7 linked regions of the Homo sapiens genome follow. The protein of the gene in region 3 interacts with the protein of the main gene of each other region in a biochemical or structural test. Each region holds a gene or a part of one and is shown on either strand. Other genes may lie near its edges.

Region 1 (3,882 bases), on a different chromosome or scaffold from region 3:
TGAAACATTAGACCAGCAATTCCCAGCCCCAGCTTTGTGACACTCAATACGTGTCCAATTTCTTCTAAGGGCATCACAGAATTCTCCAAAAAGTTAATTCAAATTCAGAATCATTTAAAAATAATCCTGTGTTGCACAATGCCTTTCTGGAAGGGGAGTGTTACAAACTTGGAGGGGAAAAAAAATTGTATATTGCCAGGCCCGGATGGCTAGGGGGTCACTGTATTAGACAGATTGGATCTTAGCTGCTCATTAACTGGAATCAGTATTGCAGTCCTGACTTAAAAATGGAAAAGCATATAGTTCCCCAGACCATGCATGACTTTTTGTATTCTAAGGAAAAGTTAAATTGTTGTGTTATATTTGTAAATACACAGCTTATACAATGGGTTACAAATGAGCTATGTTGTAGCGTGTAAAACAAGCTACTTGACACATTGCACATTTAATAGCTGCACCAGACACTAAGAGTTCCTCTCACACAGAAAAGGGGGAGAGAGGCTCTCCCTCCCCACACCACTCGCCACTCTGGGGTCCTGAGTTCCCACGCCCACCCTCCAAGATTTTCCTTCTTTTTTTGTTTTTGTTTTTTTGTTTTTTTGATTTTTCTTTTTTTTTCTAAGGTGCAGACACCCCCTCCCCCCAAGGAAATGATTGGTGGTCATCTCATCTCATGGTATACTCCTTACACACAAAACATTCAAACTACTTTTTTTCCATCTCTTGCAGTCTTGCTAACCACAAGGAAAAAAAGTTGGCCTCATCATACGGTCAGTAATAGATCCTCAACATACAATCAACCCAACCATTAGCATTCTCAGTGTGCATGCTCACGGCAAAGGCTTAGGCGCCGCTCGGAAGGGCGGGTACCAGTGGCGAGTCCAGGGTCACCCACATACCATGCACCACGGGTGCTATGCCGCTTCTTACAGGACCTTTTTAGCCCTCAAAAGACCTTCCAAGGAGAGGCCCTGGAGGCAACTGGGTAGGGTGCAGAACGGCATGCTTTGGCTGGAACACGCATCCCTCCTTCCACGGCCGGCTCTCAGCCTGGAAGCCTTTTAGCCTACAGGATCCACCTCTCTGCTCCCTCAGAGGTGCCTCTTCATGTGCAGGGCCAGGTGGTCAGACCTGGAAAAACACCTGCAAGGGCAAATCAGAAGCACAGAAGAAGTTAGGTTCCCATCCCTTGCCAGTGTTCTGGACCAGCGCCCTCACCTCCCTGCCCTGCCCAGCCTAACCCCCTGCAGGGAAAGGTGGGATTCTCCTCCCAAGCCTCATCAGTGTCTTCAGGGACAGGAGATACCAACTGATAGGAATGTGAATTAAGAATGTCCCCCACCAGTGGCTGGAGGTTCTTTGGAGAATCTGAACGGACTTCATTTCTAATTCTTCAAATATGAAAACTGTTGAAAGGCCAATCTCCAAACATATCAATAAACTGACTCCAATGTCAGGTGTATGTGGAACAGTTCTTCCTAACCATGGACAATGAGCACACCAGAAACTTTCTAAAAAGTCCCAGGCTTGAAAAGAAATGTTCACACATAGGAAACTGCATGCCTTCCTTCGAATGTGCCCTGCACACCTACTCAACCCTGGTCATCACATTCCCAAGGCCCCACGCTCCTTGCCCAGCATTGTCCTCAGGCACGTACCTGTCACAGTGGGAGCATTTAAAAGGCTTGGCCCCGGTGTGCTTTCGGAAGTGCCTGGTTAACTCATCACTTCTTGCAAAACGCCACTCACACCCTTCCCATGAGCATCTGTAAGGCTTTTCTCCTGGGGAGAGAGCACAGGACAAGCAGCCCATGACTTCACTGACCCGCAGACGGAAAGGGGAAATTCAACAACACACACAGTGGTGGGATGCAAGGCCAGGGACCCAGTGGCTTCTGGCATCGGTAACACACAACAACTGGCAGCCTCAGAGAGACAACAGCAGCTCTCTCCTGACCCAGTCTCAGGCCTCCCACTGCTGTCCAAGGGACACAGCTTCAGCCAAGCCCATGGTGCTGTCATCAAAGTTAACGTGGAAGAACGACCACGACTCAGACCAGCAAAATGCTTGCGGGATGAGGTGTCAGCCTGCCGGACCCACAGCCCCGGCAAAGGCAGAGCTATTGCTTTCTTCATGGCAACTGTTTCTCCCAAACACACTTCTGTTCCATCCTCACTTCCCTATGGAATGTGCCTCTGCAGTTTCCTCAGGGACGTTCTACCTTTCTACAAAGCTGAAGTTACGAGCTTCTGGAAAGCCCCAGTACAGGGCCCCGGAATCATTCTCTAAATGGCAATTGAACAACTGGGTTCACTTCATTCCTTGGTCAAATCATAAATATGAATTTACTACAAGTGCTACCTGAGAAAACAAAGTTGTCAAGCCAATCTCAGGGTATGTTGAGACAGGCCTGGGCCTGGATATTGGGCCACCCGGATCTCAATCTCAGCTGTCACCAAGCCTGTCTGGGACTGACTCTCAGCAATTTGCTCTCCTACTGATAAGAGAAGAGCCTGCATCACGTGATCACTAAGACCCTTCCCAGTTCTAAATGTTCTGTGATTCCTCACCAATTATCCTAGAACATGTCAAGGTATTTTTAAATAGCACTTTCACCTAGGTATGGCATTTCATTAAGAAACTGTTTCAAGCGGTATCAGAAACAAAGGCTGCATGAGACACGGAGAAGTTCTCAGGAAACACTCGCTGATCAATGCTGCTGCTTACAGAGCAGGCCGGTCCCACTCGGGCCTCGGGCCGTCAGCATCAAACCCACACACTCCACGCTGCCCAGCAACCCTCTGTCCTGACCCTTGAGTTTCATTTAGGAAACCCCAGGGCCGCTCGAGGTAGCCTCGTGCGAGTGCACTGGTGAAGGGGCAGTGGCCTCGGATCCCCAGCACTACTAAGGGGTGGGGGGTGGAGGTTTGGGTGTCCGTGGAGAAAAGGATCTAGTCTCTTGTTTGTTTAATCTGAAAATTGTTACACATTTATCCAACTCAAAAGTCCAGTCTTTAGGATTCTACTCTGAACTCCAAAAAGACCTAATGCTTTGGTGGAAAACATCTGAGGAAGTGAGGATTTGTCTGCCCTGACCACATCCTGTGCAGCCAGGCCCGGCTCCCTCCAGGGCTGGTGCAATGCAGTGGCGCCCACCAGCGGCCGCCCTCCGGGGCCCGCGTGGGCACTGACCTGTGTGCGTCCGCTGGTGTGCTTTCAAGTGGGAGCTTTTGGTGTAAACTTTCCTGCAGCCGTTAAAGTGGCACCGGTGCACCCTCCTCCTGCCGTCGGGGGAGGCATCGCCATTTCCCTTGTCACCTGGCTTCCCCGAAGTCCCGCTGCGCACCTTCCCTGGCGAGGGCAGCTCCCCGGGCACGCAACCCCACAGTTGAGAAGGTTCCCTGCTCAGTTCCGGAGAAGATGGAGGCGTGGAGGTGACAGAGGAGCTCAATTTTCCCGAGCTGACCAAAACTTCGCCAATGGGGTCGGAGGTAAACTTGGCCGTGGGAGAAAGTTCCTCGGAGCTGTCAGAGGATTCGCTGCTGACATCTGAGTTCAGGCTGTTGGTCTCTAAGTTGTAACAAAAGCTCGGGCTGATGAGAGTGTCCTCTGGAGGACTGGAAGATATCTTCAGTTCGGATTCCTCCTTTTTCTCCCGAGCCAGAATGATTTTGGTCCACAGATCTTCCTGGCTGTCAAATTTGATTTCTGAGGCTGAAACATAGCAGGGCTCGCTCTGGAGGTAACGTTCCAGCTCTAGGCAGGTCTGTGCAAAATGAACCAGAGAAGGCACGTGATTGCCATGACGACCAAAAGTAAAAGCAAAAGCAATTTCCAAAAACATGCAAGAATGAAGGACAGATAACATTGCTGCCCGGTCA
Region 2 (4,025 bases), on a different chromosome or scaffold from region 3:
GCCCAGAGAGGGGAGAGGAGCAGAAACACTCTGGTGTGCACGGCGTCCTCAGCCGCAGGGCCTGTGGGGTCCTGTCCACACGCTCCTGCACCCCCTGGGGCTCCCCAGACAACAGCTTCTCCCCCAGCCACTCGTGCAGCACGGGGACTCAGGTGCTGCACCCTGTCCCACCCCCGCTTTCTGTGTCTTTCCCCTCCCTGTGCCCCGGGGCTCCCTGGCAGGAGGAATCCTGTGCAGTGCCCTCCCCAAGGAGCTGCTCAAGTGGACATGGGAGGTTTTCCAGAATTCAAATAAGGGGCTGAGGCCAGATGATGACATCCGGCTGGGAAAGACAGTGTGTGGCTTTTGGGTGTAAGATGGTCAAGGACACCTCTCCCTGGCTGCTGGGCCAGGCCCGAAGCCATCTCTGGCCCTGTGTGCTCCGAGAGGGGCCAGGGCAGCGGCACTCACCGTACTCCTCTCCCCGCAGGATTTCGGGGGCGATGTAATTCGGGGTTCCGCAGAAAGTGCTCGTTGTGTCACCAGGGCCCAGGCCTTCCTGTGGGGGCAAAGTTACTGGGAGAGGGTTCTTGTAGACACTACCCCGCGGGACAGGCGCCCCGAGACGCACATGCGGGATGGTCAGGGGAGGCGGTCCAAGGCACGCACCTTGCACATGCCGTAGTCTGTGAGCTTGATGTGCCCGTCCGCATCCAGGAGGACGTTGTCCAGCTTCAGGTCCCTGTAGATGATCCCCCTCTCGTGCAGGAAGTTGAGGGCGATGCAGATCTCGGCCGCGTAGAACCTGGGGGTGGGGATGCCGTCATGGGGGCAGTGCCTGTGCCAGAGGCTGCGCCAACAGCTCCAGCCTGGGGGCCACACACTCCCGTTTGCCCCACCACGGGCCCGGCATCCTCTCAATGACCAGGCCCAGGATTTGAAAGTGCAGTGCACAGGGCCAGGGAGGGAAATGCCAATGAAAGCTCCAGGACACCACCCCATGCGCCTTAGGATGGCCTGCTGTCAAAGACACAGAGAACGATGTGGCAGCCTCCACAAGGGGAGGAGCGGGCAAATAACACGACAGCTTCCATGCGGGAAAGACCGGAGCCATGGCACGTTGTGGTAGGAGTGCAGAACAGCGCCGCTGCTGCGGAAGACAGTCCGGCAGGTCCTCGAAAATTAAACACGGTGCCAGGCTTGGTGGCTCACACCTGTAATCCCAGCACTTCGGGAGGTCGAGGCAGGCAGATCACCTGAGGTCAGGAATTCAAGACCAGCCTGGGCAACATGGCGAAACTCCGTCTCTACTAAAAATACAAAAAAATTAGCCGGGTATGGTGGCGCACACCTGTAGTCCCAGCTACTCTGGGGGCTGAGGCAGGAGAATCACTTGAACCTGGGAGGCAGAGGCTGCAGTGAGCTGAGATCCCACCACTGCATTCCAGCCTGGGTGACAGAGCGAGACTCCATCAAAAAAAAAAAAAAATTAAATATGACCTTTTTTTTTTTTTTTTTGAGACAGAGTTTCACTCTGTCACCCAGGCTGGAGTGCAATGGCGCGATCTTGGCTCACTGTAAGCTCTGCCCACAGGTTCACGCCATTCTCCTGCCTCAGCCTCCCGAGTAGCTAGGACTACAGGCGCCCGCCACCACACCTGGATAATTTTTTGTATTTTTAGTAGAGACAGGGTTTCACTGTGTTATTTCACCGTGTTAGCCAGGATGGTCTCGATCTCCTGACCTCGTGATCCGCCCGCCTTGGCCTCTCAAAGTGCTGGGATTACAGGCGTGAGCCACCACGCCCGGCCTAAATATGGAATTCTTATGTGGTTAGCAATTCAGTTTCTGGGTGTATACCCCAAAGAACCGGAAGCAGGGTGTTCAAGAGATTACTTCACACCCATGTTCACAGCAGCACTGTTCACCATGGCCAACATGTGGATGCCACTCAAGTGCCCCCCGAGGGATGGACGGATAAGCAAAGTGTGGCCCCTCCATCCAACGGGGCATTATCCAGCCTGAAAAAGGAAGGCAATTCTGAGACAGGCCACAGCACGGATGAATCTTGAGGACGCTATGCTCAGGAAAATGAGCCACCGAAGGACCAACACTGTGATTCCACTCCGATGAGGTCCCTAGAGTCCTCGAATCAGAGGGACAGAAAGTGGGACGTGCCCGTCTGGGGTGAGGATGTGAGGCTGGGGCGGGGGACAGGGAGGGAGTGTCTGATGGGCCAAGCTTCAGCAGGGAAGAGGGGCGTGCTCTGGAGATGAGACGGGGGCCAGCAGTGGCTGCAAAGCATGGGGTGCATTCAACGCCACTGAATTCCATGCCCCAAAATGCTACCTTTTATGTTGTGTGTTGCCACAGTTTTTAAAAACAGCGTTGTGGGAAGTGTACTGTTCTAGATTTATTGCCTACTGTCCTATTGCCAGAAACAATCTAAGGTGACTCACAAAACTGCATGCAACGTTCTTAAGTAAGGAAATGAGGAAAAGGAGAAACTACAAAAGACAGGAAAGGTCCAGGGAGCTGAAATAAGCCCCCAAACGGTCCTGGAGGTCCCGCGGCTGCCGGGGGAGGCTCCTGAACCATGCTGGAGGCCCCTCGGCTGCCAGGGGAGGCCCGAAGATATCAGAGATGAAAGGGAAGGGCAGGAAGGAGTCTCTCAGGTCACTCTAGAAACAGACCACTCTCGTTCTGCTCCTAACGCTGAGGAAATGCTGGCCATGCTGTGCCACTAACAGGGTGAAGAGCAGAACCAGGGCAGAGCCACCATGAAGACAGCACAATCCCAGGAGACTCTCACTTCTCTCGGATGAGGCATGGTGCTGCTTCAGGGGTGGGGCCTGGGGGACTGGTCTGAGGCACCATAACTCAGGAGACCTCCCAAATGTTGTGACTCTGGAGCAAATATGGAATGTGTCACAATGCAGGGGACGTCACACTGTGGGGGACATGATGCCCTCTGCCATCCTACCTGGACTTCCCTCCCTTGAGCTCCCTGCTGACCCCTGGAGAAGGTCCCCGGCCCCCTCCACGTGCACCCCGCCCCCCCCGCCCCCGTCATACCCCCTCCGTGCACACCCCACCCAGCCACCTCCCCTCTGCGCACACCCACCCGGCCCCCCAACTCCGCGCGCACCCACCCGTCATCCCTCTGTGCGCACCCACCCAGCCCCCCAACACCGCACGCACCCACCCATCCCCAACTCCGGGCGCACCCACCCGGCCCCGTCCACGCGCACCCACCTGGCGTGCTCCTCAGGGAGCTTCCTCTGCCTCTGCATGTGGAACATCAGGTCCCCGCCGTTGACGTACTCAATGACCAGGAACAACCTGCAGGGAGAGAGGCGCCGGAGGCTGCAGTCACCTCGGCAGACGGCGGCCTCCTTAGACAGAAGCCCCACAGAAGCGGCCTTCGTGGGCCCGAACCCTCCCGCAGGTTCAGTCTTGCAAAGAGCAAAGAGCAGCAGGAGCACCCTGGCAGCAGAGAGGGGCTGGTGGGGACGGGCTGCGGGGCCGCTCGTGAAGGGTGCAGGTGAGGGAGTCATGCGGGGGCCTCGCCGGCCTTCACTCTTGGCCACTGTGTGTGGACTTGGGAAGTGTGGGTGGGCCCCGGAATGAAGGAGGTGGCCCGTCACCAGGTGGGAGTGGAGGTGGCTTGGACCAGGGCTGGGGGCTGGGACAGGATCTGCTGGGGGCTGGAGCGAGGCAGTTTCTTGCATGGGGACAGCACCGCAGGTCACGGGTGGGGTGGCCTCAAGGCCTGATTTCATTGCTGCAAGGCTGAGGAGTCCACCGGCCCTCCAAGGGAACAAGCTGGGGTCAGGGAGAAGCCAGGTGGGAAGTGGCATCCCGGTTTCGCAGACATGATCGTATGATTTTAAAAGATCCGCAGATGTCATCAGGACCACGCAGGCCCTTCCCGTCTCAGGGACTGGGCCACATGGTTTCTCTTCCTAATAAGATCTTTTCCTACATTTCATGAGACTCAATTTTCAAAATTAAATTCTCATACAATCTCCCAGAAATACCCTGTG
Region 3 (4,025 bases):
GAGAATGGCGTGAACCCAGGGGGCGGAGCCTGCAGTGAGCCAAGATTGTGCCACTGCACTCCAGCCTGGGCAACAGAGCAAGACTCCATCTCAAAACAAAAAAATAAATAAATAAATTTTTTTGGCCAGGTGCAGTGGCTCACGTCTGTAATCCCAGCACTTTGGGAGGCCGAGGTGGGCAGATCACACAGTCAGGAGATGAAGACCATCCTGGCTAACAAGGTGAAACCCTGTCTCTATTAAAAATAGAAAAACTTAGCCGGGCGTGGTGGCACACGCCTGTAGTCCCAGCTACTCGGGAGACTGAGGCAGAATTGCTTGAACCCAGGAGGTGGAGGTTGCAGTGAGCCAAGAATGTGCCACTGCACTCCAGCCTGGGAAACACAGACTGACTTTGTCTCAGAAAAAAAAAAAATTTTTTTTTTTTTCATTTTCTCTTTTTATGGCCAGTAAAATATTCCCACATAATTTTTAAATTTTTGTAGAGATCGGCTCTCGCTTTCTTGCTGAGGCTGGTCTCAAACTCCTGGGCTGAAGTGATCCTCCTATCTTGGCCTCCCAAAGTGCTGGGATTATATGCATCCAGCTCTGAGTCTTAAATCCTAAAAAAAAAAATTAACCTTTGCCGGGCATGGTGGCTCACGCTGGTAATCCCAGCACTTTAGGAGGCCGAGGCGGGCAGATCACGAGGTCAGGAGATCGAGACCATCCTGGGTAACACAGTGAAACCCTGTCTCTACTAAAAATAAAAAAAGATAGCTGGGTGTGGTGACAGGTGCCTGTAGTCCCAGCTACTCGGGAGGCTGAGGCAGGAGAATGGCGTGAACCCAGGAGGTGGAGTTTGCAGTGAGCCAAGATTGCGCCACTGCACTCCAGCCTGGGCAACAGAGTCAGACTCGGTCTCAAAAAAAAAAAAAATTAATCTTCTTCCTCTTATCTCCAAATCTATTAATTTTTCTTTATATTTGTAAGAAACTGGCTGGGTCAACTCACCTTCCTTCACTGTCTTTACAGTAGGGGCAGGTGCATGCTTCCCGCCGGGTCCTCCGACCGGCTTGGGGTTGGGCATCTGGGCTGTTTTCTCCTTCCTCTCCACCTGCTGTGTCATCATGTATTCCATCACCACCAGCCCCATGGAGACCAAGCTGAGCTCCATGATCACCTGAAATTAAGAGAGAAAAGGGTCAACATGTGACATGGGCAGGTTATCACTGGCATCTCAGTGATACCCTACAGTCACAACATCATTTCTTTTGAACTGACATCCTACATTCACAGTATCACAAGTTTTGAAGCCTTTTTATGTTTAGCCATTCCATTCACTGACACCTGAAGACTCACTGAAATCTCAAGAATCATCATTGAAAATACCAAGAGTGGCTGGGCGCAGTGGTTCACGCCTGTAATTCCATCACTTTGGGAGGCCGAGGTGGGCGGATCACCTGAGGTCAGGAGTTCAAGACCAGTCTGACCAATACGGAGAAATCCCGTCTCTACTAAAAATACAAAATTAGCTGGGAATGGTACGCATGCCTGTAATCCCAGCTCCTTGGAAGGCTGAGCCAGGAGAATTGCTTGAACCCGGGAGGCGGAGGTTGCAGTTAGCGAGACTGCACCATTGTACTCCAGCCTGGGTGACAGAGCAAGACTCTGTCTCAAAAAAAAAAAAAAAAAAAAAAAAGAAAGAAAATACCAAGAGCCAATAAATACGTAAAAATCTGATCAAATCTCATAGTTGTTTTTTTTTATTATTATACTTTAAGTTTTACGGTACATGTGCACAACGTGTAGGTTACATATGTATACATGTGCCATACTGATGTGCTGCACCCATTAACTCGTCATTTAGCATTAGGTATATCTCCTAATGCTATCCCTCCCCCGATCATAGTTTTTAAAATGCAACTCCACTTATAACGCATTTGTAATTTTTCACCTATCAGATTACCAAAAGTTGAAACCCTAATAACATACGGCATTGGTAAGGGTACAGGAAAACAGACCCTCCCTCTCTCTCTTCCTTCCCTCCCTCCCTCCTTCCCTCCTTCCTTCTCTCTCTCTCTCTTTTCTTTCCTTTCTTTTTTTGAGACAGAGTCTCGCTGGCTCTGGAGTACAGTGGCATTATCTGGGCTCACTGCAACCTCCATCTCCTGGGTTCAAGTGATTCTCCTGCCTTAGCCTCCCAAGTAGCTGCAACTACAGGTATATGCCACCATGACTGGCTAACTTTTTTGTATTTTTAGGAGAGATGGGGTTTCACCATGTTGGTCAGGCTGTCTCGAACTCCTGACCTTAGGTGATCCACCCGCCTCGGCCTTCGAAAGTGCTGGGATTACGGGTGGGCATGAGCCACCATGTCCAGCCGGAAAGAGACATTTTCATACACAAATAGTGATAAATTAATACAACTTTTTGAAGGCCAGTTTGAAAATATTTAAATGTACATCTAATTTGAACCAGCAATGCCCATATATTTACATGTGGTTCTGCCTGTAACCTCAGCACTTTGGAAGGCTGAGGCAGGAGAACTGCTTGAGATTAGGAGTTCAAGACCAGCCTGGGCAACATAGGGACACTCTGTCTATAAAATAAATAATAGGCTGGGCATGGTAGCTCACGCCTGTAATCCCAGCACTTTGGGAGGCCGAGGTGGTTGGATCACTTGAGGTCAGGAGTTCAATACCAGCCTGGCCAACATGGTAAAACCCCCATCTCTACTAAAAATACAAAAACAAAACAAAAAAAATCAGCTGGGTATGGTGGAGTACGCTTGTAATCCTAGCTATTCGGGAGGCTGAGACAGGAATTGCTTGAACCCAGGAGGCAGAGGTTGCAGTGAGCCGAGACTGTGCCACTGCACTCCAGCCTGGCCGACAGAGCGAGACTTCGTCGCCAAATAATAATAATAATTAGCTGGGCATGGTGGCATGCGCCTATGGTCCCAGCTACTCAGGAGGCTAAGGTGGGAGGAAGATTGCTTGAGCCAAGGTGTTTAAGGCTACAGTGAGCTATGATCACATCACTGCACACCAGCCTGGCCAACAGAACAAGATTCCAACTCAAAAAAATATATATAAATAAACAGTGTATGCTAAAATGCTTTAGACTCTCATCATGACTCAGTTGGTCACATTTGACATTTTCAAACACAGCTCTAGGCCACTGGTAAAAAGTGACAGATAATATTCTTTTTTTTTTTTTTTTGAGACTGAGTTACACTCTTGTTGCCCAGGCTGGAGTGCAATGGCACAATCTTGACTCATTGCAACCTCCGCCTCCTGGGTTCAAGCGATTTTCCTGCCTCAGCCTCCTGAGTAGCTGGGATTACAGGCACCCACCACCACCCCTGGCTACTTTTTGTATTTTGTTGTATTTTTTTAGTAGAGATGGGGTTTCACCATCTTCGACAGGCTGGTCTCGAACTCCTGACCTTGTGATCCGCCCGCCTTGGCCTCCCAAAGTGCTGATTACAGGCGTGAGTCACCGCACCCGGCTGATAATATTCTTCGCAAAAGTAATATCTTATAAAGTGGCAGATAATATTCTTCTCAAGACTTCTTTCCTTTTTTTTTTTTTGAGACGGAGTCTCGCTCTGTCGCCCAGGCTGAAGTGCAGTAGCGCGATCTCGGCTCACTGCAAGCTCCGCCTCCCAGGTTCACGCCATTCTCCTGCCTCAGCCTCCCTAGTAGGTGGGACTACAGGCGCCCGTCACCACGCCCGGCTAACTTTTTGTATTTTTAGTAGAGACGGGGTTTCACTGTGTTAGCCAGGATGGTCTTGGTCTCCTGACCTCATGATCCGCCCGCCTCGGCCTCCCAAAGTGCTGGGATTACAGGCGTGAGCCACCGTGCCCGGCCTTTCCTTTTTTTAAGGAGACCGGGTCTCACCATGTTGTCCAGGCTGATCTCGAGCTCCTGGGCTCAAGTGATCCTCCCGCCTCAGCCCCCCAAAATGTTCTGTTGTGATTATAGACATTAGCTACTGCTGCCTAGCCTTTCTCAAATTTTCAAAGCATTTACTATAAA
Region 4 (4,025 bases), on a different chromosome or scaffold from region 3:
AGGTAGTGGGGGATTGGGGGAAGGTGAGGATGGTTAATAGTACAAAAAGTAGTTAGAATGAATAAGGTCTAATATTTTACAGCACAACAGGGTGACTGTAGCCAATAATTTAATTGTACACTTTAAAATAACTAACAGAGTATAGATTGTAACACAAAAGATAAATGCTTGAAGGGATGTATACCCCATCTTCCATGATGTGATTATCATGCATTATATGCCTGTATCAAAACATCTCATGTGCCCCATAAATATATACATCTCCTATGTACCCACAAAGATCAAAAATAAAATCATTTAAAAATATATTTTTTTAATTTTTCAAGCTTGGTGTGGTGGCTCACGTCTATAATCCCAGCACTTTGGGAGGCTAAGACAGGAGGATCACTTGAGGCTAGGAGTTCGAAACCAGCCTGGACAACATAGCGAGATCCCATCTCGGAAAAAAATAAATAAATAAATAAATAAATAAAATTATTAGCAGGAGGACTGCTTTAGCCCAGGAGTTCGAGACCAGCCTGGGCAACATGGTGAGACCCTGTTATCTACTAAAATACAAACATTAGCCAGGCATGGTGGCCCTTGCCTATAGTCCCAGCTACTCTAGAAGCTGAGGTGAGAGGATCGCTTGAGACTAGGAGGTCAAGGCTGTAGTAATCTGAGATCATGCCACTGCACTCCAGTTTGGGCAACAGAGCCAGGCCCTCTCTCAAAAATAAACAAGTAAAAATAAAAATATAATTCTTCATAATTTTCTTTTAATTAGGAGGAAAATTGAGTTTATAGTTTCCAAAAAATTAAGGTGATTAGCTGAAGTAATATATTTGCATCTTTTTATGCTAAGAAAAACAGATACGAAAGGATGAGAAAAAAATTCAAAATCTATGTTTGTGTTACAAGGGACTTTCAGTATTTTATTTTCAAGTGTTTTCTGTTTTATTACCTCTACAGTTTCAAAAATTATACACAAACTTTGAACTGAAGAAAGCTACTTAGCGATTTACTCTTTTGCATACAATTTAATCAAATAGTTTCTAAATTCCAGTTAACCAGAGATCCTGAATAGAGTGAATTATTTTTCTTTTCGGCATGTACTTAAGATTCTTTCCTGGCTTTTTAAGCTATAGTTTTACAGCTGTTCTATTTTGAAACCTAGTTTTATTCTGCTGCATATTTATGTATTCAATGCTGAAGTCAGCATTTCTGTAATTCTCATTTTAGCTGAAAAGATAGTTCTTTTCTTTTGGGGACAGTTAAACTGAATAAAATATAGACAGTCTATGTGTGACTATATTGACTACTCAAACTGTTGATTAACTCATGTCATGATGAGTATTGTACTCATCTGAGAAGTGACCCCATAATTCCATTAAAGCCTGTGTTTGTGCGTTTCAATCACCACTAAATCAATCTAAATACAGGAAATCAATTTTGAAATACACTTACCAGGATGATTGGAAATGGGAGGCTGGAATGCAAGCTCATTGTGAACAGGCCCTAAAGAAAAGACAACAAAAATTCCATTTTTATTTACTAAAAGTTGTCTAATGCTAAAACTTTCAGTAAATCTTACTTAAATATAACTATTATAGGTTAGGAATTGTTTAAAACAAGCTTATGCAATGTCTAAGAACTTAAAAGTTTACAATAAGCAAATAGTCTTAAACTATTAATACTTTTGTGGATATTTAATAACTAACATTTCAGTGCTATCTGCCAAGTGCTATTATTACACAATTTACACATAATTTTATATCCAACATTTAATACAGATCATAAATGAATTATTCATGTAACGTCCAATACAGTACAATTTATAATGCAATGTATAATAATAAACTGTTAGGTCTATTCTAAAAACAAGTGCTTATGTTAATTAAGGATGTTTATTTAATGGAATCATAGCTAACATAATTGAAAACTGGTAATGTGTTAAAACACTGTGCTAAACACCTCACATAAATTATTACGTTTACTTCTTACGAACACCCCTTGAGGTAGATACTACTATTATTACTCTTGAGGCTTAATGAGGTGAAATAACTTGTCAATGGTCACACAGCCTGTTAAAGGTCCAAACCCAGCACCCTTCAACACTATGACGGCCTAGGCAGCCATTAAAAATTACATTCTCTTAAGAAATGGAAAAAATAGTAACATAACTGAAAAGAAGCAAGATATATACAATACACATAGAGTAGGAGCCCCTGTCAATTTACATATACCTGTTTATATGACTGGAAGGAAAATAACAAAATATTAGAAGTGGCTGTTTTTGAGTAGCAGGATTCAGGGTAATTTTGCTTTTCTTATTTATACTTTTCTATATTTTCTAAGTTTTCTTTGGTACTATTAATATTATAATGAGAAGAAAGGGATTTAATGTATATAAGAGTTATACTCTCGATTTTACTAAGCCATATGAACAATGCTCCTATTCTACCTGAAACTACATGTTATCTGTAGGGTATTCCTCCCAATCATGCCAGCACAGAGTTATCTATAGATTCAACATTATCCAAAGTACACTGAATACTACGCTGAGGGAAACCTTGAGAACTTAGCACTCAAAGGGTTTCAATCCATTATGCGTGGATATACAAGACACAGATGAGATCTAAGAACATATACAAAGCAAACAAACAAATGAATGGAAATCAATGTGATGTTAATGAAACATTAGCAACAGAGAAATAAATGTATTTAGCAAACATCACTCCTCTAAAATAAAAAGGTAGGATAACTATGAAAAATAATACTGTTTACAAAAAATACTGAAAAGCACTATTTAATGAAACAAAATCACAGGATGAATAAAAGATGTAAAAACATTTTTAAAAAACAGAAAACAAAGCCCTACCAAAAAAAAAAAAAAAATAGCCCTTACAACAAAAACAAGAGCTTACAGTAATGTCCGGGATGGGGCGGCATAGGCGGGTGGTGCTGAAGATGGCCGTTTTGGTGGTGAGGCAAATTAGGTGTGTATGGTGCAGTCCTACTTCCAGTCCAGGTGGTAGTGCTGTCTAAAAATTAAGGCCCACATGGGTTAATTTGCTTTTATAAAGGCTGCCTACTTTTTTCTCAACTATTTAAAAGATTTTTTAAAGTATGTACATACTATGATGGTAAGTAGCTGGCTGACCAGTAAATCCATTCTGCTGCTGTCCTGGCTGAGGCCCTGATGCTATCTGCAACAGTCCTTCACTATGGCTGCCCCCCAGTATACTGGCAGGCTGACCTAGAGGAACAAGAAGACATTAACATGGTACATTCATAGATGTCATCTTATGATTTCATATACTAAATGAAGGACCAATTTTATCTGATAATGCACAACTATAAAGATGGGCAAAAAGTGTAACTCACCCATGGCCTATCAGGTAAAAAACCTACAGTCATCTATAAAGGCAAACTTTAACTTGAGGAAGCTCAAAATTATTCCATTTTAGGTAATGTCTAACTAATTGTAGTGGCTTATTTCTTCACAAACATATTTCAAATGCCAGCAAAACACCACTGTACGTCTGGCCTATCATATTAACTTCTTCAGAGGTATGTCAGTTCATCCTGGCCACTCCATCCACCTCTCTCTCTGGACCTTTCTGATTAGGACCCCAAAAATCCAGGCTCAAGAAAATGTTGAAAACTGAAAAATTAATCACTATCAGCACTGATACTAGTAATGGCAGAATGCTAGGGTTTGACAGAGAAAAGCAGAGCAGAAAATTATTTTAAATAGGATGTGATAGTGAAGATGAGGAAGTTAAAAAGATCTAGCTCTGCTGTCCAATCAATATACCATTTACTGGTTAAAAACAAACAAAAAAACTATCAGTCTACTTTCAAATTTTTTCAAGAGCTTTTATAAACCAAGAATCATTTCTTTTCAAGAACACCATCATATTCCCAGATGTACAAGAAATTAATTGCCCTCTCTGTATGTAATATACCAAGAGAATCAAGCTTCTCTTGGCTTGTATTCTATTCAAAAACCATCCTATGATATTGCTTACTGTCCTACATTT
Region 5 (4,025 bases), on a different chromosome or scaffold from region 3:
GGAAGCAGAGCTTGCAGTGAGCTGAGATCGCGCCACTGCACTCCAGCCTGGGTGACAGAGCGAGACTCCATCTCAAAAAACAAACAAACGAACAAAAAAACTAACACATAATGTACGTGATCCTGTTTATCTATATAAAGTATAAAAATACACATGTATGCAAGAGCATAGAAAATACTTTGGGAGAAAATACACTTTGTTTTTTAGGACAGAGTTTTGCTTTGTCACCCAGGCTGGCGTGCAGTGGTGTGATCTCGGCTCACTGCAACCTCCGCCTCCCAGGTTCAAGCGGTTCTCCTACCTCAGCTCCCATGTAGCTGGGATTACAGGCGCATGCCACCACGCCCGGCTGATTTTTGTATTTTTAGTAGAGATGGGGTTTCGCCATGTTGGCCAGGCTGGTCTTGAACTCCTGACCTCAGGTGATAAGGCCCACCTTGGCCTCCCAAGGTGCTAGGATTACAGGCGTGAGCCACCGCAACTGGCCACCAATTTGTTATAGTAGTTAGTTATCACGGCCTGGTGCTGTGGCCCACATACATAATCCCAGCACTTTGGGAGGCCAAGAAAGGAGGACTGCTTGAGCCCAGGAGTTCCAGACCGGCCTGGGCAACATACTAAGACTCTGTCTTTAAGAAAAAAAAAAAAAAGGTATCTCTGGGGAGAAAGGAGCAATGGGATAAGGAAGAAGAAGAGGACTACCACACTTTATTAGCATTTTTGCCATAAACATGTTTTTGGGTATTTCTGGTGTAATTTAAAATATGAATAATGACAAATATAACTATGCTTCAGTGAAAGGGTTTTTCAATATATATCACCTTAATAGTAAATAACCTGGCTGACCTTGAGATCACAGGTGGTGTTGAGCAGCAGGTTGGAAGGCTTGAGGTCACGGTGCAGAACGTTAGCTGAATGGATATATTTTAACCCTCTGAGGATCTGGTAGAGAAAATAGCAGATATGGTCATTGCTGAGGTGTTGTGTCTTCAAGAGCTTGTAAAGATCTGTTTCCATGAGGTCCTGTACTATATATCTGTTTGCACAGGTTAAGGTAAAACACCAATTAGCTGGTCACATTTAGCAAAGCATTGAAAACAAAAATGCATCCTCTCTTGACTCTCTTCCCAAACAGTCCATCATTACACCATGAAGCCCTTAAAGGAAAGAAGAAACTGAGGAAAACTTGGTTTCCTTCATGGAAAGAATCTGAAGTCGTTAACTCCTTTTAGGTCCTGTGAGATGGCAGGCATTCCAGCATTACATCTGACTGATGCGGCTATGGGCCTAGACTGAGATCTGAAACAGGCTGTTAGGGAAATTCTGGTCAATCTTGAAGTCTCAACCTCTTTGCTCTCTAAATTGTCCACCATCAACGAACCCCCTCCAAGGTTTGCTGGAAACACTGTTAGCCTGTAAGTAGCAGATACTCCCTCCTCTGTTTGGTCCAGTAACCTGTAATGTCACTATTCTTTTTACTTCTTGTTGCCGCTCCCCTCCTCTCCCAAGCTCCTCAAAAGCCAAACATAAAACTTCCAGAAATACAGGTCTAGAAACATACTCTTACTAGTAAATCCAACCCTAAGTCTATTTTCTTGACTCTTCCATTACTGTTAAGATCTTAAATAAGTAAGACTATGGGCAAGTCGTTCTAAGAAGGGGTTTGTGCTAGTTTTCCTCCTCATGCTTTCTTGCCTGGTCACGTACTTAACTACCTAAAAGTTTAGCTATGGCTACTTTCTTTCTCACAGAAATTAAATTATTAAAGCATTTAGCCTTTAACTTCATCATAGTATTATTTCATTAGCAGTATTTCTACATTTCTTTTACTCACTTCTGTGTAAACACTAGTCTCTGTTTCTTACAGATTTATGCTATAGGAGGCGCAGCATGGGATTCAAAGGAAACATGATTTAAAAATCTGTCATCTGAGAGAGGCTTATTTTCATGGCAAAAAGTAAAGCAGGACCAACAGGTGGTAGTGGCAGGAGGCATTTCACTTCAAATATCACTACAACTTATTAACAGAGCTGTTTAAAAATGGAAAGGGCTGCCTAGAAACAGCGAGCTCCCGCACCCTGGAGGGGCGGAATACAAATTGGGTAAACTGGTAGGAGTGCTGTATAACCCTTTCCCTTCTGGCAGATCCTCTTCAGTATACTTAACCTCTCTATCTTTCAAATGGAGCCTTTACCCAGGCAGCATCCTCTAGATCTGTTCAGTCCAGATTTCTAAATGTTGGTCAGAGTTAATCACATAATTTCAGACCTCAGTTGACCTTAAAGATCATGACGACCAGTTCCTTCATTTTAAAGGTGGGGAAACTGAGACCTAAAGTGGTAACCTGACTCTTAAGATCAGGACAGTCCTGATTTCACCAGGTAGATAGCCAGGGCACCCTCTTTCTTAGTCTACTACTGATCTTCCCTTTACCTTTTCATCATCACAACAAACCATCCCTTGGACAGAAGAAACATGACTGCAAACAGAGTTAACCAAGATTTTCCATGACTAGACTTAGGGAGTAAATAGCAAACAGATTACGATTTTCCCTTTAGCATGTTTAATGCACTTTTCCTTTAAGTTCAGGAAATTTCAAGTTCTATTTACTCAACAAGGTTACCAAGCAGTGGAATTGGCCAGTTGCCTAAAAAGGATACACATCTTTCATTTGCTCGATGGTTGGTGCTCGAATAATGTCATTGATTCCAATGATGTTCTCATGTCTGAAGCGCAGTAAGATTTTTATCTCCCTCAGGGTTCTCTGGCAGTAGGTCTGGTGCTCAAAGGGGCTGATTTTCTTGATAGCTACTCGAACTTTGTTGACATTATCATAAGCAGAGCTTAAAAAAGAGAGAGAGAGATGGCATTAAAAACAGCCCTCAGAATATTTGAAGAAGGCAAGTTGGTAAAGTATTATATTTTTAACACTGTGTAAACACCTGTTTCATACCCGTGAAGGCAGCATGTATATTATCCACAAAAAGGCCTCAAGCTAGGGAGGATGGATGCAACTGACATGAGAGAGCACACAGTGACTCTCAAAACTAACAGAGAACCTAGCCCTGTTAACTGGGTGAAAGTCTTGCCTTTATAAACCCAGAAATACACAAACAAGCATTCTCCCATTGTCTTAAACAGCAACTGCATTCTGGTGAGAGTAATCACTTCTGTCTCTGAAACACCTTCTTACTGTTGTATCAAATTCCTCTGACACAGAAGAAACATTCAAATAACCTACAACTGTACATCTTTATCCCTAACAAAAATGGACCCAAGAGAACACCTTGATTACTTCTATTAACTTTGTTTCTCTCACTTGCAAAACAACATGACCATTTCTTCCCCCAAGAAACTGAATCAAGATGTTTGGGTAGTTTTATAACAAAACCTAGAAAAGTATTCTTCAAAAAACATATTTGTGGCAATAACATGGGGCCCAGTTCTTTCCTAGTTGTCCTTAATGTCTGATAAACCAGAATTATAAGCAAAAGCAATAATAAAAATTATACCTTCAATTTTATGAATTTGAATCTTGAGTATTACTACTATCTTTATGATAAACATTCTATTACAATCTTGTGTATAAGAAATTTTCATATTAATAAATGTCAACATCTGGCCCACTGACCAAAGCAATCAAATAACATTGACAGGCAGTAAGACAACATTTCTTGTTTCCTTGGGGTAAGTGCTAGAATAGAAAGCAGTAAAATAACTTTATTCTAAAATTTATGCTTCTAGGGCCGGGTGCAGTGGCTCACACCTGCAATCCCAGCACTTTGGGAAGCTGGGGCGGCTGGATCACTTGAGGACAGGAGTTTTGAGACCAGCCTGGACAACATGGTGAAACCCCGCCTCTACTAAAAATACAAAAAAATTAGCCAGGCATGGTGGCAAGTGCCTACAATCCCAGCTACTTGGGAGGCTGAGGCACAAGAATCACTTGAACCTGGGAGATGCACGTGGCAGTGAGCCAAGATTGTACCACTGCACTCCAGCCTGGGCGACAGAGTGAGACTCCG
Region 6 (4,025 bases), on a different chromosome or scaffold from region 3:
ACCTTGCACAGAATATATCTAAATCGCATCTGGAAACCTGCCAATACTTGAGAGAAGAGCTCCAGCAGATAACGTGGCAGACCTTTTTACAGGAAGAAATTGAGAACTATCAAAACAAGGTATGATCTGAGGAATTTTTCCTCCTAGGATTGAGGCAATATTGGGAAGGGTGTTGGTATAGGAAAGTTGGTCAAGAGTTCACACAGACTAAAGAATGAATGTCATCAGGTTTCTGTTTAAATATCTTTTTTCTGAAGCTACTAATGTACTTGAGGCTTTGCCATTTAACTCAGATGCAAAATTTCAGCAATAGCAAATAATTTCTATTGTGCTTTCTAGGTATACACATACCTCCTTCCATTTGTCAACAGGAGAATAGATTAAGCAGCTTCCAAAAGTCTAAATGAATTGAGAATTGTCTCAATATCACAATCAAGATTTTAAGGTCTGGAAGTTTATGTAAAATAATCTCAGCCTAATGTTTCTGGAAGTTGACAAGGAAGCCTCATGTTTCTGGAAGTTGTATTAGGGAGTATATACAAAAAAAATTTAGAAGCTGTGATCATAACTCCAGTCTGAACCTAGCAATATGAGGCTGACAAATAGTACCCTACTTGCCTTTTTCTGTAAAACACCCAGATCAACAAGATTATCTAAGTGAATCCATTTTACATTTGAGGAAAACTAACATCCACTGGCATGTCTGGAGAGTGAAACATCAAGACCAGACCTTGACTCCTGGCTCCTAATTCAGTGTTTCTTCCACCCCATCATATCGGTGGGAACAGTCTGAAACTAAGATTGGGGAAACAAGTTAGCAACGAAAAAGATCCAGACCATTCTGTAACTGAAATGGAGAGTGCGAATATAAAAGGAATTTAACAGGACATGTTGGGGAATAGCAACACATTGCTTTGTTTGCCTTTGAGGTAGCAGGTAATGCCAGCAGCCAAAGCTACAAAGGAGAAGCAAGAAAACAGTAAGAAGCAACAAAGTATATGAAATAGGATTTTAGAGTCAGAGATGCTTGGATTTGAATCCTGGCTCCCATATCCACCAGTTTTTTGTTTTGTTTTGTTTTGAGACAGTCTCACTCTGTCGCCAAGCTGACACTTGCACTGGCGCAATCTCGGCTCACTGCAACCTCCGCCTCCCGGGTTCAAGTAATTCTTCTGCCTCAGCTTCCCAAGTAGCTGGGAGTACCGGTGTGTACCACCACGCCTGGCTAATTTTTGTATTTTTGGTAGGAACAGGGTTTCACCATGTTAGCCAGGCTGGTCTTGAACTCCAGACCTCAAGTGATCCCCCTGCCTCGGCCTCCCAAAGTGCTGGGTTTACAGGCGTGAACCACCGTGCCCAGCCAGAAAAAATATTCTTATGAAAGTGAATTAAAACAAGGATGTCATAAAGCGCCTAGCTCATAGTAGGTGCACAATAAATTCAGTTGATTCTCCTTTTCTCCCTTCCCCCAAAGTAAAGTGGTGTTAAATTTCCCAAGGCAAAATAATTACTTAAAAGAAGATCCAGACCGGGCACGGTGGCTCATCCCTGTAATCCCAGCACTTTGGGAGGCCCAGGCAGACAACACTTGAGGTCCGGAGTTCAAGACCAGCCTGGCCAACATGGTGAAACTCTGTCTCTATTAAACATACAGAAATTAGCTGGGTGTGGTGGCAGGTGCCTCTAATCCCAGCTACTCAGGAGGCTGAGGCAGGACAATCACTTGAACCCAGGAGGCAGAGGTTGCAGTGAGCTGAGATTGTTCCACTGCACTCCAGCCTGGGTGACAGAGCGAGACTCCATCTCAAAAATAAAATAAAATAAAATAAGATCCCACTTTGCCACTCTTCGTGGCCCAGGGCTAAAGCAGTGGCATGCTTTGCTTTCATAACTCTGCAGCTTCTGCTACAAAAGCTAACATCTTCCTGGAGGATGTTAATGTGTTTCCCTCTTTAACAGCAGCGGGAGGTGATGTGGCAATTGTGTGCCATCAAAATTACAGAAGCTATACAGTATGTGGTGGAGTTTGCCAAACGCATTGATGGATTTATGGAACTGTGTCAAAATGATCAAATTGTGCTTCTAAAAGCAGGTATGTGCTTTGCAAGTGAATTTTGAGATCTCTTCCTAACCTGCTTTCACCCGCTTATTAAAGAAATGCTTGGTAAGGAAGGTGTCGGGAACAGTTTTTCTCCAATGATAATAGCTCAGGTTTTTCTTAGCAGAAATGGAGTTCTTTTCAAAGGTTTTAAGATATATTCAGGAAACATTCCCCCCACTTTTCTTCTCTTCTGGGTGAAAAGATTAATTTGAAGGTCACCTACATTCCCAAATTTTCCCATCACGTGTGTTTTGTTTCTACACTCCAAGTCCTCCGAGTTTATGATGTTAGGAAGAAGAAAGTAGAACTCAGAAAGATATACTTGTTTTTGATTCTTGGTTTTAGTACATATGAATAAATGCTTTCCTAGCAACTCTGAGACTCTGCATTGCGAGGTAGAAGAGTGCTAAGGAAGTAATTTATAAATCAACCCTCACTTCAGTTAAACAGGGCTTAGCTTCAGCACAACAGTCTTTTAATTACATAGAAAACTCTGCCCTTTTGGATAGACAGCTGATGTGACTGAGAACCCGCTAGCTAAACTGCACACGACACCCACCATGCTGTTGCAGAAGGAGTCTCTACATGAGCAGCTTAGAAACAAACTCACTAACATCAGATGACCCAAATGACCCAAACCATTTCTGCCTCTGCTTAGGTTCTCTAGAGGTGGTGTTTATCAGAATGTGCCGTGCCTTTGACTCTCAGAACAACACCGTGTACTTTGATGGGAAGTATGCCAGCCCCGACGTCTTCAAATCCTTAGGTAAGGGGATATCAAGGTGCCTTTTCTTCAAATCAGGGCTATAGGAAAAGATGCGGGTTGAGTGAAAGCTCTGCTTGGACAAAATGAAAACTTTATTTAGAAACAAAAATTAAGGGGTTTTATACCTATTTTACTTTCTAGTTAGTCACTGTAGAAAAGTCATATAGCTCAAAAGTTTTTTGTCTACATTACTTGTAAAGATGTAGAGTTTCATTTTATCTAGTTGGTAATCAAAGGGATTTATATGACGTGTCCTTCCAGTTCCCTTCCAGATTTTAAGAAACCAGATTTGCTGGTGATATATTATTCGGATGACCTTTAGGATGTGAGCTGATACATAAAATTAAGCAAAGGGCAAAAGCTTTGCCCTTCCATCCCCCTCAAACAGTAACCATTAATGAGACTGAAATGCAGATATCAAAGAAATAAAAGTTACAGTTAAGTGAAACCATGATATATAATTTATAATAAATAATTTGGGGCCAGGTGCGGTGACTCATGCCTGTAATAGCAGCACTTTGGGAGGCCAAGGCAGGCGGATCACCTGAGGTCAGGAGTTTGAGACCAGTCTGGCCAACATGGCAAAGCCCATCTCTACTAAAAATACAAAAATTAGCTGGGCATGGTGGCACACGCCTGTAGTCCCAGCTACTCAGGAGGCTGAGGCAGGAGAATCACTTGAAACCGGGAGGTGGAGGTTTAACTGAGCTGAGATCATGCCACTGCACCCCAGCCTGGGTGACAGATTGAGACTCTGTCTCAGAATAATTAATAATAAATTTTGGATTTCTATAATTTAAATAAAATGAACATAGTTATTAAGAAGAATGGATAAGTATCTAAAATGAGTGATTTTTTTAAAAGTTATATGACAGATGATATATATAATGAACTGTCATGTAGCACATTGTCATTTAAATATATACATTTATATGTAAAATATGCAAATCTGAAGGAATAGACACCAAACTTAACCAGTCTTTTGGAAAACGGATTATTATTCTAGGGGACTTTCACATTCTGTGTTTTCAGGTTGGTAAATAGTTATAATAGTTTTACCACCAGAATATGTCATTTGTTAACATTTTTAAGGATGTTTCAGATGAAATAGAGTTGAAAACAAAAATGAGTTAATTTAACATATCAGTTAGAATATGG
Region 7 (4,025 bases), about 23 Mb from region 3:
GGTCTAGAAGGAAGCTTTCATTTAATTTTGATATACAGGTGTCTGAATATACCAGGGACAGATCATTTTAAGTACATAGCTTGGGGTTTGGAGGGCAATACAGATGAGGTAAATTTGGGCTGTTTGTCCAGGAGAATGAATTTATTCTTGAGGATATAGCATTTTGGGGTTCCTGCTTAATTTGGGAGGGTTACCATAAAGATAGCCACCGTGGACAGGCCCAGAATTTTAACTTTGGTTAAAACCAAAGTTCACGTTGCTGATAATTGGCAGTTGACCTCAGTGCAAAAGTGCCTTCCTTCTGCTCCTGTTTTGCCCTCAGTTTTGGGCTGGTGATTCCTTACTATCTTGTTAGCATTTCAGTGCTTTTAAGATTTTTAACAAAATGTTTTTGTTAAAAAACATCTGTACTTTTAATTCTTTTCCTTTTTTTTTTTTTTTTTTTTTGAGACAGGGTCTTGCTCTTACCCAAGCTGGAGTGCAGCGGTGTGATCTCGGCTCACTGCAGCCTCCTCCTCTGGGTTCAAGCAATTCTCCTGCCTCAGCCTCCTGAGTAGCTGGGACTACAGGTGTGTGCAACCACGCCCGGCTAATTTTTTGTATTTTAGTAGAGACTGGGTTTCACCATTTTGCCCAGGCTGGTCTCTAACTCCTAAGCTCAGGCAATTCGCCTGCCTTGGACTTTCAAAGTGCTAGGATTACAGGCGTGAGCCACTGCGTCCGGCCATATTTTTCATTGGTAGAATTGATCTGCATAATCTAGTTTGTCGCTTTCAGGAATGAAAGTTTTTCACAGAGATCTTGGAATGCAATTTAATGTATAACAAATAAGATTCTCACTGATTTTATTTAATGTCAACTGCAGTAAAATATTAATACAGGTATTAACCTAAACTTGTGTTTCTCAATGTGGTCTACCTGAGAACCACCTCTCAGAAGCTGAGTTTCTTGTTTAGAATGCAGATTTTTGGGTCCCACTTCCTCAGATGTTTTTCTGCTTTATATAGATGATGAAATAGAGCCAGAAGTTGTTTGTCTTAGTTTGTAGATTGCTACAAAGTTGATGTCAGCCCAAATGATCTGACTACAACTGACTAGAAAATTAGGTCTATCTTACAACCAAGAAATACAATGTAGCCAGAATGGGCAGGTTAGAGCAGCCTTCTCTGGAGGAGTAAATGCCTCCTGTTAATGTTCTGTAAATGTTCTGTCTTGGATCCTCTTTACTAAAGTTTCATTTTAAGAATTTAAACTGTAAATGTAATGCTGCAAATGGACATTGAGGTTAGCAGTGTAGCCATTCTGTGAACACATTAAAATGTTACAAAAATTTAAATTTGGAAGTTTTAGGTTTTGTTTCTGTTTTTGACAATTGCTGGGTTTAGTAGACACTATATATTAAACCTAGCAAATCTCAGAATAAATTTGTGTATTGGAAATTATTATATAAATCTGTGTGTTGGAAAACCAAATGCAGTCATGCACCACATAAATACTTAGCCATTATATTAAAGTTGCCTATGGTATTCAATACAGTCACATGCTGTATAGGTGTGTAGCCTGGGAGCAATAGTCTATATCATAGCCTAGGTGCGTAGTAGGCTATACCATCTAGGTTTGTGTAAGTATACTCTGATGTTTGAACAACAATACAATCACCCAGAGACACATTTCTCAGAACATATAATCCACACATGACTGTAATGGTGAATGGGAAATTAGTTCTCATTACCCCCAGTCCCTTCTTTCTCATTAGGTTACTCTGGTTAGGTTTTTGGTGTTTGTTTTCAGAAAGGGTTTATTTGTATTAAAGTATGTGCGTATATGAGTGGAGATATATATATATATATATATATATATATATATATATATATATATTTCCATATCCAAAGGGGATTTCGGCATACATCCTATACCTTGCTTTAGTGTTCCTTCATATCAACTCAGATCTGTTTCATTTGTGACTGCAAAGCATTCCATTTTTGCATATTCCATTATAGTACTAAGTTTATAATAAGCTTTGTGTGCTACCCCAAAGAAGACAACGCTATGATTGTCAAGATCAGATTTAATTCCTGTAATCATGAATTTTGTCAGTTGGGAGAGACAGACCATAGGTCAAACTAATTTATAATTACAGACTGAGACATCTTATGGTGGAAAGAAAAGAAAGCTTTATAGGAGTGTGTGTACAACCAAGAAATCTTACTTAACCGGAATGTGCAGGTTGGAGAAAGCATCTCTGGGGAGTGAAACTTTGAAATGAGAGCCAAAGGATGTGCAGGACTTGTTCAGAGCTGTGGAAGAACCTTCTAGGTGAACATGGAAAGCAAAGGCATTAGATTCTTTATAATTTTTTCATGGTAGAGCTCATAAGTGAATAAATCTGGAGATGGACATATTTTGTTTTTTTAATTTTTATGTTTTTAAGAGACAGTGTCTCATTGTGTTGCCAAGGCTTGTCTTGAACTCCTGGCCTCAAGCGGTCCTTCTGCTTCGGCCTCCCAAAGTGCTGGGATTGCAGGTGTGAGCCATGGTGCCTGGCTGAGATGGACATGTTTAAGGCTTTTGATATTCCTATTGTCAGGTTGCTCTCCAGAAAAGATACGGGAACACTAGCTGGAAATAAGGATGCATGTGCACTACAGGTTTCCCTGTATTAAAAAGAAGTTATTGATGATGTGGTAGACAAACTGGAATCCTACTTGGATTTCTTTGATGTCAGAGTTCAGTATTTTTCTTATTTTTGATTAATATTCATAATTGCTAAACACTTTGTAAATGCTGACTCATTACCCAGCATCACTAGAAAAATTCATCAGTACTATTAGGAATTATTTATAACAAATACAAAATATTTACAGAGTTAGATACATTAGGAAGAATAATTTTCTTTATAATTACTCTAAAGGATAGATACTAGGTCAGTAATAATGTTTCCCCCAAATATTAGCACTTAACTGCTAAAATCAGGATGTTTTCCATTTTTAACTCTTTGTTCATAGGCATAATACGTTGCTATGAAAGTAAACACATGCAGGATTTTGTGAATTAAATATGTATTAAGATTTTAATTTTTACCAGATAACTTGATTCTATTTATTCATAATTTTTTTAGAGACAGGGTCTTGCTGTATTTCCCAGGCAGGCCTTGAACTCCTGTGCTCAAAAGATCTTCCTGTCTCTTGGGCAGCTGGGATTACAGGCTCTTGGGCAGCTGGGATTACAGGCTCGTGCCACTGTGCCTGGCTAAGATAAACTTGATTTTAACATGGATTCTATCTAAACTTGGTTTAGTTTTTTTTGGTAATCTGTAGATTACCTGTGGCATTCTACCATTTTTTTCTGCCTGGATATAACACATCTGCTTTAAGATTTGTTTTTCCAAAAGCAGTATTCTCCAGGTTCATACTAATCTTTTAGTGAGAAGGAACTTAGGATATCCTCTGGTGAGTCTTAACAGTAAACTTACTCAGGTCTGGTAACCACAAGTCTTGACAATGTCCCTAGCATATCTAGGGGAAGCTGGAGGTTGGTGGTTGTCAGTTATCTAACATGAGGTACATGTACATTTGGAGAGATAGGGAAGGCTTACCTAACATTAAGATTGGGACCTAGAGCTTTTGAAATAGTCTAAATGGCTATTTGATCCAGGGATTAAGTCTTTTAAAAAGATATCCAGAGGGCATAGTGAGTACAGTAGGCATCAGATTTTGGTTTTCTTAAACATGAATTACATAAAATGAATATTGCTAAATACGAAATGGATAAATGGATTTAAGATGCTACGTAGTCTAAAAATTTAAGCAGAAATTGACCTTTCTTGATTGTTGAAAGAATTTGAATGAAGATCCTTTTGTACTGTTCCTTTCCTATGATTCTAGCAAATGTTAGTTTTGTTTTTAACCAATGGTGCTATTATCATAGTCTTTATACAACAGATTCTAAAAGCTTAGTGGTAACTTTTTTGTTTTAAGTAATATCCTCTGAAAAATTATTTTTGGTACTAGTAAGGAAGAATTTGC

Evidence for each region.
Region 1: the proteins of SP1 (region 3) and KLF6 form a complex in vitro, tested with the Homo sapiens proteins (one study listed by BioGRID).
Region 2: of the proteins of SP1 (region 3) and PRKCZ, one has a biochemical effect on the other in vitro, tested with the Homo sapiens proteins (one study listed by BioGRID).
Region 4: the proteins of SP1 (region 3) and SMAD4 form a complex in vitro, tested with the Homo sapiens proteins (one study listed by BioGRID).
Region 5: of the proteins of SP1 (region 3) and MAPK1, one has a biochemical effect on the other in vitro, tested with the Homo sapiens proteins (2 studies listed by BioGRID).
Region 6: the proteins of SP1 (region 3) and RORA form a complex in vitro, tested with the Homo sapiens proteins (one study listed by BioGRID).
Region 7: the proteins of SP1 (region 3) and NAP1L1 form a complex in vitro, tested with the Homo sapiens proteins (one large-scale study listed by BioGRID).

What each region holds. Positions count from the first base shown.
Region 1 is NC_000010.11:3,778,448-3,782,329, forward strand, and holds part of KLF6 (Krueppel-like factor 6), read right to left. Parts: intron 3,768-3,882; coding exon 3,194-3,767; intron 1,783-3,193; coding exon 1,659-1,782; intron 1,144-1,658; coding exon 1,092-1,143; 3' UTR 1-1,091.
Region 2 is NC_000001.11:2,168,814-2,172,838, reverse strand, and holds part of PRKCZ (protein kinase C zeta type), read right to left. Parts: exon of another isoform or gene 3,389-4,025; intron 3,346-3,388; coding exon of another isoform or gene 3,322-3,345; coding exon 3,235-3,321; intron 785-3,234; coding exon 649-784; intron 539-648; coding exon 451-538; intron 1-450. UniProt on the Homo sapiens protein: Calcium- and diacylglycerol-independent serine/threonine-protein kinase that functions in phosphatidylinositol 3-kinase (PI3K) pathway and mitogen-activated protein (MAP) kinase cascade, and is involved in NF-kappa-B activation, mitogenic signaling, cell proliferation, cell polarity, inflammatory response and maintenance of long-term potentiation (LTP).
Region 3 is NC_000012.12:53,403,722-53,407,746, reverse strand, and holds part of SP1 (transcription factor Sp1), read right to left. Parts: intron 1,163-4,025; coding exon 994-1,162; intron 1-993. UniProt on the Homo sapiens protein: Transcription factor that can activate or repress transcription in response to physiological and pathological stimuli.
Region 4 is NC_000018.10:51,057,338-51,061,362, reverse strand, and holds part of SMAD4 (mothers against decapentaplegic homolog 4), read right to left. Parts: intron 3,239-4,025; coding exon 3,119-3,238; intron 3,024-3,118; coding exon 2,907-3,023; intron 1,498-2,906; coding exon 1,447-1,497; intron 1-1,446. UniProt on the Homo sapiens protein: In muscle physiology, plays a central role in the balance between atrophy and hypertrophy. When recruited by MSTN, promotes atrophy response via phosphorylated SMAD2/4.
Region 5 is NC_000022.11:21,805,004-21,809,028, forward strand, and holds part of MAPK1 (mitogen-activated protein kinase 1), read right to left. Parts: intron 2,844-4,025; coding exon 2,661-2,843; intron 1,037-2,660; coding exon 847-1,036; intron 1-846. UniProt on the Homo sapiens protein: Serine/threonine kinase which acts as an essential component of the MAP kinase signal transduction pathway. MAPK1/ERK2 and MAPK3/ERK1 are the 2 MAPKs which play an important role in the MAPK/ERK cascade.
Region 6 is NC_000015.10:60,501,602-60,505,626, reverse strand, and holds part of RORA (nuclear receptor ROR-alpha), read left to right. Parts: coding exon 1-119; intron 120-1,959; coding exon 1,960-2,092; intron 2,093-2,759; coding exon 2,760-2,867; intron 2,868-4,025. UniProt on the Homo sapiens protein: Nuclear receptor that binds DNA as a monomer to ROR response elements (RORE) containing a single core motif half-site 5'-AGGTCA-3' preceded by a short A-T-rich sequence.
Region 7 is NC_000012.12:76,074,403-76,078,427, reverse strand, and holds part of NAP1L1 (nucleosome assembly protein 1-like 1), read left to right. Parts: intron 1-4,025. UniProt on the Homo sapiens protein: Histone chaperone that plays a role in the nuclear import of H2A-H2B and nucleosome assembly.